2 separate regions of the Homo sapiens genome follow, and region 2 is linked to region 1. Evidence: fine-mapped expression QTL. Tissue or cell type: whole blood. Region 1 holds a variant in brackets; the other region holds the start of a gene. All regions are shown on one strand. Distances are between the middles of the regions.

What was found. PIP is the estimated chance that this variant, and not a neighbour inherited with it, causes the effect.
Region 2: it holds the start of STK24, and the variant in region 1 is fine-mapped to the expression of STK24 in whole blood (TOPMed, PIP above 0.99).

What each region holds. Positions count from the first base shown.
Region 1 is chr13:98,637,222-98,642,486 of GRCh38, forward strand. It overlaps the pseudogene CALM2P4. Among named protein-coding and RNA genes, the nearest start is that of STK24-AS1, 63 kb to the left of the region's middle. The variant C/A (reference allele first, on the strand shown) is at 2,850.
Region 2 is chr13:98,574,087-98,579,086 of GRCh38, forward strand. STK24 (serine/threonine kinase 24) reads right to left here and starts at 3,021. Exons shown (of 11, transcript NM_001032296.4): 1 at 2,659-3,021. The coding sequence starts at 2,700. It overlaps STK24-AS1 (STK24 antisense RNA 1), which reads left to right and starts at 3,169. Exons shown (of 1, transcript NR_046542.1): 1 at 3,169-4,755. RefSeq lists silencers at 531-590, 2,055-2,924, 2,975-3,284, 3,305-3,454 and an enhancer at 3,545-3,734.

The DNA of each region.
Region 1 (5,265 bases):
TTCAGGCTGGTCTCAAACTCTTGACCTCAAGTGATCCAGCCGCCTCGGCCTCCCAAAGTGCTGGGATTACAGGTGTGAGACACCACGCCTGGCCAATCTTTTCAACTTTTATTTTAGCTTTGGGGGTACACGTGCAGGTTTGTTACCTAGGTAAACTTGTGTTATGGGGTTTGATGTAGATTGTTTCATCACCCAGGCCCTAAGTCTAGTATCCAATAGTTATTTTTTCTGATCGTCTCCCTCCTCTCACCCTCCACCCTCAAGGAGGACCCAGTGTGTGTTGTTCCCTTCTTTTTTCTATGTGTTCTCACCATTTAGCTCTCACTTACAAGTGAGAACATGCGGTGTTCCTGTTAAAGATAATCTATCAATCATTTCTTAATGAATGATAATGTATCATTAAGAAATGATTGATGCATTATCCTTACATTTTTTATTTTGAGTAATGATAAAAATTGCTTTCCCACTGAAAGTTATTTTATAACTTTCCTTCCTATGTTTTTTGGAAAAATGATGGGCCGGGCACGGTGGCTCATGCTTGTAATCCCAGCTGAGGCATTTGGGAGGCTGAGGCAGGCAGATCATGAGGTCAGGAGATCGAGACCATCCTGGCCAACATGGTGAAACACCATCTCTAATAAAAATACAAAAATAAGCTGGGTGTGGTGCCGCATGCCTGTAGTCCCAGCTACTTGGGAGGCTGAGGGAGGAGAATCATTTGAACCCAGGAGGCAGAAGTTGCAGTGAACCGAGATTGCACCACTGTACTCCAGCCTGGAGACAGAGCAAGACTCCATCCCAAAAAAGAAAAAAAAAAAAAGATATTAGGGCAGCTACATTTGTGAGGCCTGGATGAGTGAGAAGGAGAGACTTAGCCATGTATTATGGTAGTTTATGTATTTCTTTTCATAGTGTCTGAGAAATGCTATATGAGAACTTGAGTTATTTTGAAATTAATTTTTTAATTATTGAACTCCATTCTTTAATCGCACTCCACTCACACTGGATGATGTGAGTGAGGGCTCTACGGGGGTCATATTACCTCAAGGATACAAAAGGTATCCACACTCATTTTTTTTTCTTGAGATGGAGTCTTGCTCTGTCTCCCAGGCTGGAGTGCAGTGGTACGATCTCAGTTCACTGCAATCTCCATTTCCCAGGTTCAAGGGATTCTCCTGCCTCATCCTCCCAAGTAGCTGGGATTACAGGCACCCGCCACTACACCCAGCTAATTTTTGTATTTTTAGTAGAGACGGGGTTTCGCCATGTTGGCCAAGCTAATCTTGCACTCTGGACCTCGAGTGATCCACCCGCCTTGGCGTCCCAAAGTGCTGGGATTACAGGCGTGAGCCACTGCACCTGGCCCACATTCAGTTTTAAAAAGAGTGTGTTTACTAATGTGAAGTGAGGCTTAAAGTTCAAGTGTCCTGCAAATTTTAAGTACGATTTCAAGAACAACTAATAAACATATAAAAACATGCTCAATCTTATGAGACATCATAAAAATCAAATTAAAGTTCCAGTGTGACACTATTGCATACTCAACACAATGGCTAAATGGAAAAGGACAAATACTGAGTATTAGTTAGGATATGAAAAAAACAGAATGTTTACGCCCTGCTGTTGTGAATATAAATTGGTACAATCAATGTGAAAAATTAGTGATATCTACCTAATGCTACCGTACATATCCCATGACCTGCCAATTACATACTTAAGTAGATGTTCAAGATAAATGCACAGCTATGTTTGACAAAAGATATACACAAGAATATTCATAGCAGCACTATGAGACTAGTCCGAATTGGAAGCTACTTAACTCTCCATCAACAGTGGAATGGGCCAGGTGTGGTGGCCCATGCTCGTAATCCCAGCACTTTGGGAGGCTGAGGCTGGAGGGTTGCTTGAGCCCAGAAGTTTGATACCAGCCTGGGCAACATAGGGAGCCCTGGTCTCTACAAAAACATTTAAAGAATTGGCCAGGCATGGCGACGTGTTCCTGTGGTCCCAGCTGCTCAGGAGGCTAAGGCAAGAGGACTGCATAAGCCCAGTGTGAGGTTACAGTGAGCTGTGGTCACACCACTGCACTCAAGCCAGGGCAACAGAGCAAGACCCTATCTCAAAAAAACACCAAACACACACACACACACACACACACACACACACACACACACACACACACACACCAGTAGAATACACAAAAAAATTATGGTATAGTCACATTGCTGTATACAAAACTATATCCACTAAGAATAAAGGCCAGGTGCACCTTGAATCCCAGCACTTTGGGAGGCCAAGGGGGAAGGATGGCTTGAGGCCAGGTGTTTGAACTAGCTTGCTTAACACAGTGAGACCCCGACTCTGGATAAGTTAAAAAAAAAATTAGGCCAGGCGCAATGGCTCATGCCTGTAATCCCAGCACTTTGGGAGACCAAGGCGGGCAAATCACCTGAAGTTGAGAGTTCGAGAGCAGCCTAGCCAACATGGTTAAACTCCGTTTCTACTAAAAAAAAAAATGTTAGCTAGATGCAGTGGTGGGCGCCTGTAATCCCAGCTACTAGAGAGGCTGAGGCATGAATCCGGGAGACAGAGGTTTCAGTGAGCCGAGATCATGCCACTGCACTCCAGCCTGGGCAACAGAGCAAGACTCCATCTCAAAAAAAAAAAAAAAATTAGGTGAGTGCAATGGCACATGCCTGTAGCCCCAGCTACTTGGGAGGCTGAGGAAGGAGGATTGCTTGAGCTCAGGAGTTTGAGGTTGCAGTGAGCCATGATCACACCACTGTACTCCAGCCTGGGCAACAGAGCAAGACACTATCTCAAAACAATAACAACAACAACAACAACAA[C/A]AAACACGAATGAACAACCTGTAACTACATACAATACTGTGGATGAATCTCACAAGCATACAAGCATAACGTCAAGTGAAAGAATCTAGACACAGAATAATGCATACTGTGTGAGTCCATTTATATAAAGTTCAAAAATAAGCAAAACTGCTCTATGGGGTTAGGAATATAAGACAGCAGATACCCTAAGGGGTATAAGAGCAAAAGGAGGCATGAGAGAGCTTCTGATAACACTTGGTCTGTTGATATGAGCCCCATTACATGAGTGTGTTCAATTTGTGAAAATTTACCAATTTTACTATTATTATTTGTGTACTTTTCTGTGTATATTTTACACAAGTTTTAAAAACAAACATGTTTTTATTTAGTAATCATGATTGTTAATTGGTGGAATAAGACACAACTGGTCTCAAAATTCAGTCACATAATGCATTATTATTATTATTATTATTATTTGAGACAGAGTATCACTCTGTCACCCAGGCTGGAGTGCAGTGGTGCAATCTCGGCTCACTGCAACCTCCACCTCCTGGGTTCAAGCGATTCCCCTGCCTCAGCCTCCCAAGTAGCTGGGACCACAGGCATGTGCCACCATGCCCGGATAATTTCTGTATTTTTAGTAGAGATGGCATTTCACCATGTTAGCCAGACTGGTCTCGAACTCCTGACCTCAAATGATCTGCCCACCTTGGCATCCCAAAGTGCTGGGATTACAGGCGTGAGCCACCGTGCCCAGCCTGTGCAAACTCTTCACAGTTTACTTGACCGTCACCATCAATATCTGCTTCCCTGATCATTTCGTCAACCTCTTCATCTGTTAACTTCTCTCCAAGGTTTGTCATCGCATGGTGAAGTTCTGCTGCACTAATATAACCATTGCCATCCTTATCAAACACACGGAATGCTTCTCTCATTTCTTCTTCACTGCCTGCGTCTTTCATTTTTCTTGCCCTCATTGTCACAAATTCAGGGAAGCCAACTCTGCCATTACTATCAGCATCTACTTCATAAATCATGTCCTGTAACTCTGCTTCTGTGGGATGCCGCCTAAGAGACCTCATTTCTGTTCCCAGTTCCTTTGTTGTTATAGTTCCATCACCGTCTTTGTCAAATAGTAAATAAGCTTATTTGAATTCTACAATCTGCTCTCCAGTCAGTTGGTCAGCCATGCTGAAAGCGCTACCGGTTTCCGAGACGCGACTGCACGACCACTCGGCTCGCTCGCTCCACTCGGACTCCCTTCTACTTTAAAGATCAGATAATTTCAATGCTCTTAATTCCAGACCATAGAAAAAAAGAAAACTATAGATCAATTTCACTTATGAATATCAATGCAAAACTCTTAAATATAACTGTAGCAAGCAGAATCCAACAGCGCATTAAAAAATAATACATTGGCCAGGCGCAGTGGCTCATACCTGTAATCCCAGCACTTTGGGAGGCTGAGGCGGGCGGATCACCTGAGGTCAGGAGCTCGAGACCAGCCTGGCCAAAATGGCGAAACCCCATTTCTATTAAAAATACAAAAATTAGCCAGGCATGGTGGCAGGTGCCTGTAGTCCCAGCTACTTGGGAGACTGAGGCACGAGAATCGCTTGAACCTGGGAGGCGGAGGTTGCAGTGAGCCGAGATCGTGCCACTGCACTCCAGCCTGGGCGACAGAGAGAGATTCCATCTCAAAAAAAAAAAAAAAAAAAAAAGTTTGTACAGATGATGATAGCAAAGACCTTGCTCGAAATGTGTTAAATTTCTTTTACAAAATTATTTATTTGCCTTTTCTTTGTTTGTAACTTATCTGTAAAAGGTTTCTCCCTACTGTCAAAAAAAAAAAAAATGCATACATAGTAATTAGGACTTAATTCCTTCATGTTTTCTTCCCCTGTCTCACTGTCATTGTCCTGAAACTTTATTTTAGAAAATTGAGGCCGGGCGTGGTGGCTCACGCCTATAATTCCAGCACTTTAGGAAGCCGAGGCAGGCGTTTTAACTGAGGTCAGGAGTTCGAGACCAGCCTGGTCAACATGGTGAAACCCTGTCTCTACTAAAAATACAAAAATTAGCCGGGCGTGGTGGGACACGCCTGTAATCCCAGCTACTCGGGAGGCTGAGGCAGGAGAATCACTTGAACCCAGGAGGTGGAGGTTACAGTGTTGAGATAGCGCCATTGCACTCCAGCCTGGGCAATAGATTGAGACTCCGTCTCAAAAACAAACAAACACCACTATATATATATATATATGTATACTTAAAAGTAGCACTATTGCAAAATGGGCATATTATTCAGGTACTCTCATACTTTTTTTGAAATGGAGTCTCGTTCTGTTGCCTAGGCTGGAGTGCAGTGGCATGATCTCAGCTCACTGCAATCTCCGCCTCCTGGGTTCAAGCAATTCTCCTGCTTCAGCCTCCCGACTAG
Region 2 (5,000 bases), 63 kb before region 1:
ACGCAACCTCCGCCTCCCGGGTTCAAGTGATTCTCCTGCCTCAGCCTCCCGAGTAGCTGGGATTACAGGCGTGTGCCACCACGCCCAGCTAATTTTTTGGATTTTTAGTAGAAACAGGGTTTCACCATGTTAGCCAGGATGGTCTCGATCTCCTGACCTCATGATCCGCCCACTTCGGCCTCTCAAACTGCTGAGATTACAGACTCTGCTGTCTTTCTAAGCCAACTCCTTATAAGCCCTGGTCAGGAGACAAGAAAAAGGGAGGGCTATGAGGCCTATCAGAGCAAGCCATAGAAGAGATACGGACTTCTCTCCTCCCATTTAGCAGACAACAGTCGAAAGCAGGTGTGTTTTTAATTGAATCTTCAGCAACAACTCTTAGGGAAGCCTCCCAGGGCAGTAGCAACTGCTAATTTGAAGTAGAAAATAAATGTGCTGTTGTTTTTCTTTTGTGGGGTGGGGGAGGAGAAAAGAATGTTCTTCCCCAAATGATACACTGTTACCATACAGTCTGTAGATGTACTTAGGTACAGGAATGACTGGCAGAAGCCAACTTACCTACCTCTAAAACTGTAAAACTGTAACAGCTGAAAATCTGATCATCTTTTCCACTGAGAAACACTTAAGATCTTTCATACTGAGAAAACAAAATAAAAACAGTTCCCATGTAACACAACCTAACAGATACATAATAGTTGAGAGGCAAAGTTATTAAGGAAATGTATCTTCTTTTCCCAAGGTTTAAGAATTCTGACCCACTCAAAAAAAAAAGTGAGGATAAAAATGAAAAGGTGAGATACTAGATATCACCTGGTAACCATCTGATACTGACTTCACGGCACCAGCCAAAGGGGCTTTAGTACCTTTTCAAACTGATTCGCTATCCACAAAGGCCAATTAACCTAGTAAGTGAGGCATTTGTGCTAGATTCCAACCTGATGAACACGGTATAAATATCAACCTAAAGGAAATATTGATAAAACTTTTTTTTTAAATCATTACAAGAGTCCTTTCTTGCTCGACTAGTAAGAAATTACTTTTTTCACCCAGTTCACTCTGACCTACACACCTCTAAATTCATACCAAAGCGGCTTTAGAAAATACCAAGAAACCACATCTGATTGTTACCCAGCAGTCAGCAGAAGTTTAGGTTTTGAATGCATGCTAAATTCAACGCTCCTTAAATGAGAGTCGACAAAAGAATATTCTTCAAGCATCTTCCCAGTCACTCTTAAGATAATAACTTAACTGTTGCTGCTTAAATGTATATTTATTTACTGCTTAAACATATATACACACATATATATACTGCTTATATATACACACACACACACACACACACATATACACACACACACACTTGGACTAAAATTCTAGCTGCCATTAAAGTGGTAACTTTGAGTTCCTATTTTTCCAGAATTCAAACCTGAACAGTGAAATCCAGTTTTCTTTTTACGGTTTCAAAAAAAGAAGGGAGAGGGATGATCTCACTGGAAGAGGCGAGCAGACCCCAGAGGCAGTCCCAGGTCTGGGCTCTGTGCTTCTCAGCCCTCAAGACACAGGGAAGGAGCCTGTTGGTACCTGTAAATCAACCAGTAATCTACTTGGATGCTTTTGGTTTTCTTCAAACACTTAACGTTCACTCAGCTAAACTGGCAGAGCAAACTTTCATGACATATCCTAACTGCATCCTAAGATTTCCATCCTAAGCATTTTGCCACCATTTCTGCGCCTACAAAGTTTACAAGAGTTAGCCAAGGACGGTAGCTTTGTTTTTCAAAGGGCTAAAAGCAACGACAACGAAAACAACAACAACAAAAAACCTTTAACTTATACATGTAAATTTGAAATTCAACTCCTCTCCCACTCCCCAAAAAGTCACTGGTAGGCCAAGGTGTCACCAAGTACCGAAAGAGAGGTTTACTGGGCGAAGAATTCCTGTAAATGCAACCAAGTCTCAAAGTGAAAGTCCAGGGTCCCGGGGCCGGGCCCGGGACCCTGGTGCGCGGCTGTCCGAGGGATTCCTCCTTCCAGAAGGTTTGCAACTCGCACTTTCCCCCGGTCCGCAGGTGCACGGGGGCTCCGGGCAAAGCCACTGCAAGTGGAACTCGCGGTTACCTTCCTCCACTCCACCCTGCCTACTCCGCTCGGGCCCGGACGAGTCCAGGCGCGCTCCCCGTCCCCGCCCTGCCCAGGTCTCCCGCCCGCCTGCCCGGGGGTGGGGGACGAGCCTGGGGGACGCGTCCTGGGGCCCTCCGCCAACCCGGCCACCACGCAGGGCCCCGGGACCCGGCGGGGGCCTCCAAGGGCATCACTCCACCTCACTTCTCCCGGGGACAGGGCCACCCAGGGCCTGCAGCTCCGGAAGAGTGTTGGGGCGAGGGGAGCGCGGAGGACTAGGCGCCCGCACCCCCACATCCGGACCCAGGCCGCGGTTCCTACGGCTCCTGCACGCACACGCCGGAGACCTCGGCCGCCGGAGCCGGCAGGGACGCCCAGGGACTCGGACTCGGACCCCCGGCCGAGCCGGGCGCGCGGGGAGCCAGGCTCCGGCGCGACCCCGGCCGGCTGAGCGTAGGGGGACGCCGTGTGGATACCGCCAAGTTGCTGCTTCCGCCCCGGTCGCGCATCCCGGCCCCGCGGCCCGCGCCCGCCTACCTGCATGCCGGGCAGGCCCGACTGCACCGGGGAGTGAGCCATGGCGCTCAGGACGGCCACTTCCTGGGACGGGACGGCCGGGCCGCGACGATCCGCGCGGGGCGGCGAGGCCCGCGGGCCGCGCGCAGCCCTCGGGCGGCGGGGCCGGCCGGAGCCCGAGGCCACCCCAGCCCTGGCGGGTCCCGGCCGGGCGGCGGGGGCTCAGCGGCGGGTGGCGGGCCGCGTCTCCATGCACGGCGCCAGGGAGGAGCTGCTGGGGGCGCAGGGCCTCGCGCGCACTGCCGCCGCCGCCGCTGCTGCCGCTACTGCTGGGCTGGAGCCGGGCGGCCTGGGCCCGCGCGCGCTGGCCGCTGGAGCCGGAGTGGGCGCGCACAGCCCGCCGAGCCCGCGAGCGCCGAGCGCGTCCCGCCCCGGCCCGGCCCCCGCGCCCGCCCCCACGGCCCGGCCGGGGACCCCGCCCCGCGCTTCCGGGAGGGGGAGGGGAGAGGCCGGTGGCCGCGCGGGAGCCCTAGGCCGCAGCCGCCGCCTGTCGGCCCGGCCCGGGTCCCAGCTGCTCCTGCGGCGCTCCCACGCCCCCGCGGGCGGGCGGCGGGGCCGGGAGGGGGCCTCGGCTGGGGCGGGCGCCGGGAGGGACCGAGTCGGGGCCGGAGGCTGGCCGCGTGCCCACCGGGCCGGCGCCGGGGCGAGCCTGGGCCGCGGCCCCCTCTTCCCGCCAGCCAGCCCACCCCGCCCCGGCGGCCTCTGGGAAAACGCGTCCCGGGCGAGCCCCTGAGGGCAGGATCGGAGTCGGGGGCACCTGGGGAAGGAGAGCGCCCCGTGGGGCCTCGGCCGGTGGCCTGTGCCAAAAGGCCGGGCAGAGCTGCTTCGGTGTCTGGGTGAAGTTTCCAGCCAACCCAAGAAGGAAACCGAAAGGGAAGAGGCCGAGAGAGAGGTTAATTCCTAGTGCTTTGGTTACCGAAAACAGCCCGGCTGGGACTGCTGGGCTGGGAACTTAGCTAAGCAGTGCGGAGGCTGAACCCCACCATCTCTGGGATCCGCAGCAAATCAGAAGCCCCCACCCACGATAAGGGGAAAATGGGGCGCAGAGGGCAGGGAGGAAGGGAAGAGAATGGAAGGAAAGCGCGTCTGGACTTTGAACTGCAGCCCTCTCCCTCTTTCCCTTGCCTCGGAAGCTCCAGGCCCACTCAGCACCAGTTCTGTCTCCTCTTTTCAGCCGCCTTCTCTCTAGCTACTGAGGGGAAAAGTCAGGATGAAGCGGGTCCCTCGGCCTCCAGAAGGTGTTTTATTACAGTCGCAAACAGGTAGAGCGGCAGCCACCCCAGTGATGACTCCCTGCTCCTTAGATTGTAGGGACGCTGGCACCTCACTCATGCTCCTAAGTGGCCATTTTGCGCCCTGGCTGGGCGAGTTAGGCAGACAAAATGAGCCCCCAAAAGTTTAAAGGCCTCCACCAAAGGAGTATTTCTTTTCTGAGGTGTCATTGTATTCCATCCACGAACTTCAGTTCCCCCGGGTGCTCTGGATCTGACATGGAGTAGGATGCTAACATCTAATCCCTTCTTTCCCTTTGGAAAGATGCATGTTTTTTCTCGGAGTCCTAGGGAATACCTTAGAATACTTTCATGGTTGTCATTGGTACACCCATCCCTTGAGGAGCCCTGCCACCCGTAAGTAGGACTGCAAGGAAATACAAAATTAAGAGAAGTATGAACCCTGATACCCAGGAACTTAAAATCAGGTGTATAAATTTTGTACACCTAAAAAATATGGTACCTAAAGAGGCGAACAGCAAAACAAGCAAGAATGTGAATCTTTAAAATGTTTCTATTCTTCAGCGCAGCCCAGGAATTCTACCTAAAGTAACATATCCTAAGGCAACAACCAAGAAGTGTGGAAGAATGCATGTAAGAAGACACAGTGATGTTTAGAATCCTGGGGAAACGGAACAGCCAAAAAGTCTCACAGAGGTTAAGTAAATAATAGCATTTTCATACGAGTACTATGTAGTCATTTAAAATTATGTCTTTCAGTACCTAGTAATGGGGAAAATGTATTCATTATATATTATTAAAGAAAATACAGGGTACAAAACACTGTATATAGACTGATCTCAAATGACTATATATATATTAATATATATGGCCTACAGACACACAGTCATGTATTGCTTAACAATGGGTATACATTCTGAGAAATGTGTTCTTAGTTGATTTTGTCACGTGAGCATCATAGAGTGTACTTCCAGAAACCTAGATGGCATAGCCTACTACACACCTAGGCTATATGGTATGACGTATTGCACCTGGACCACAAACCTGAACAGCATGTGACTGAACTCAATA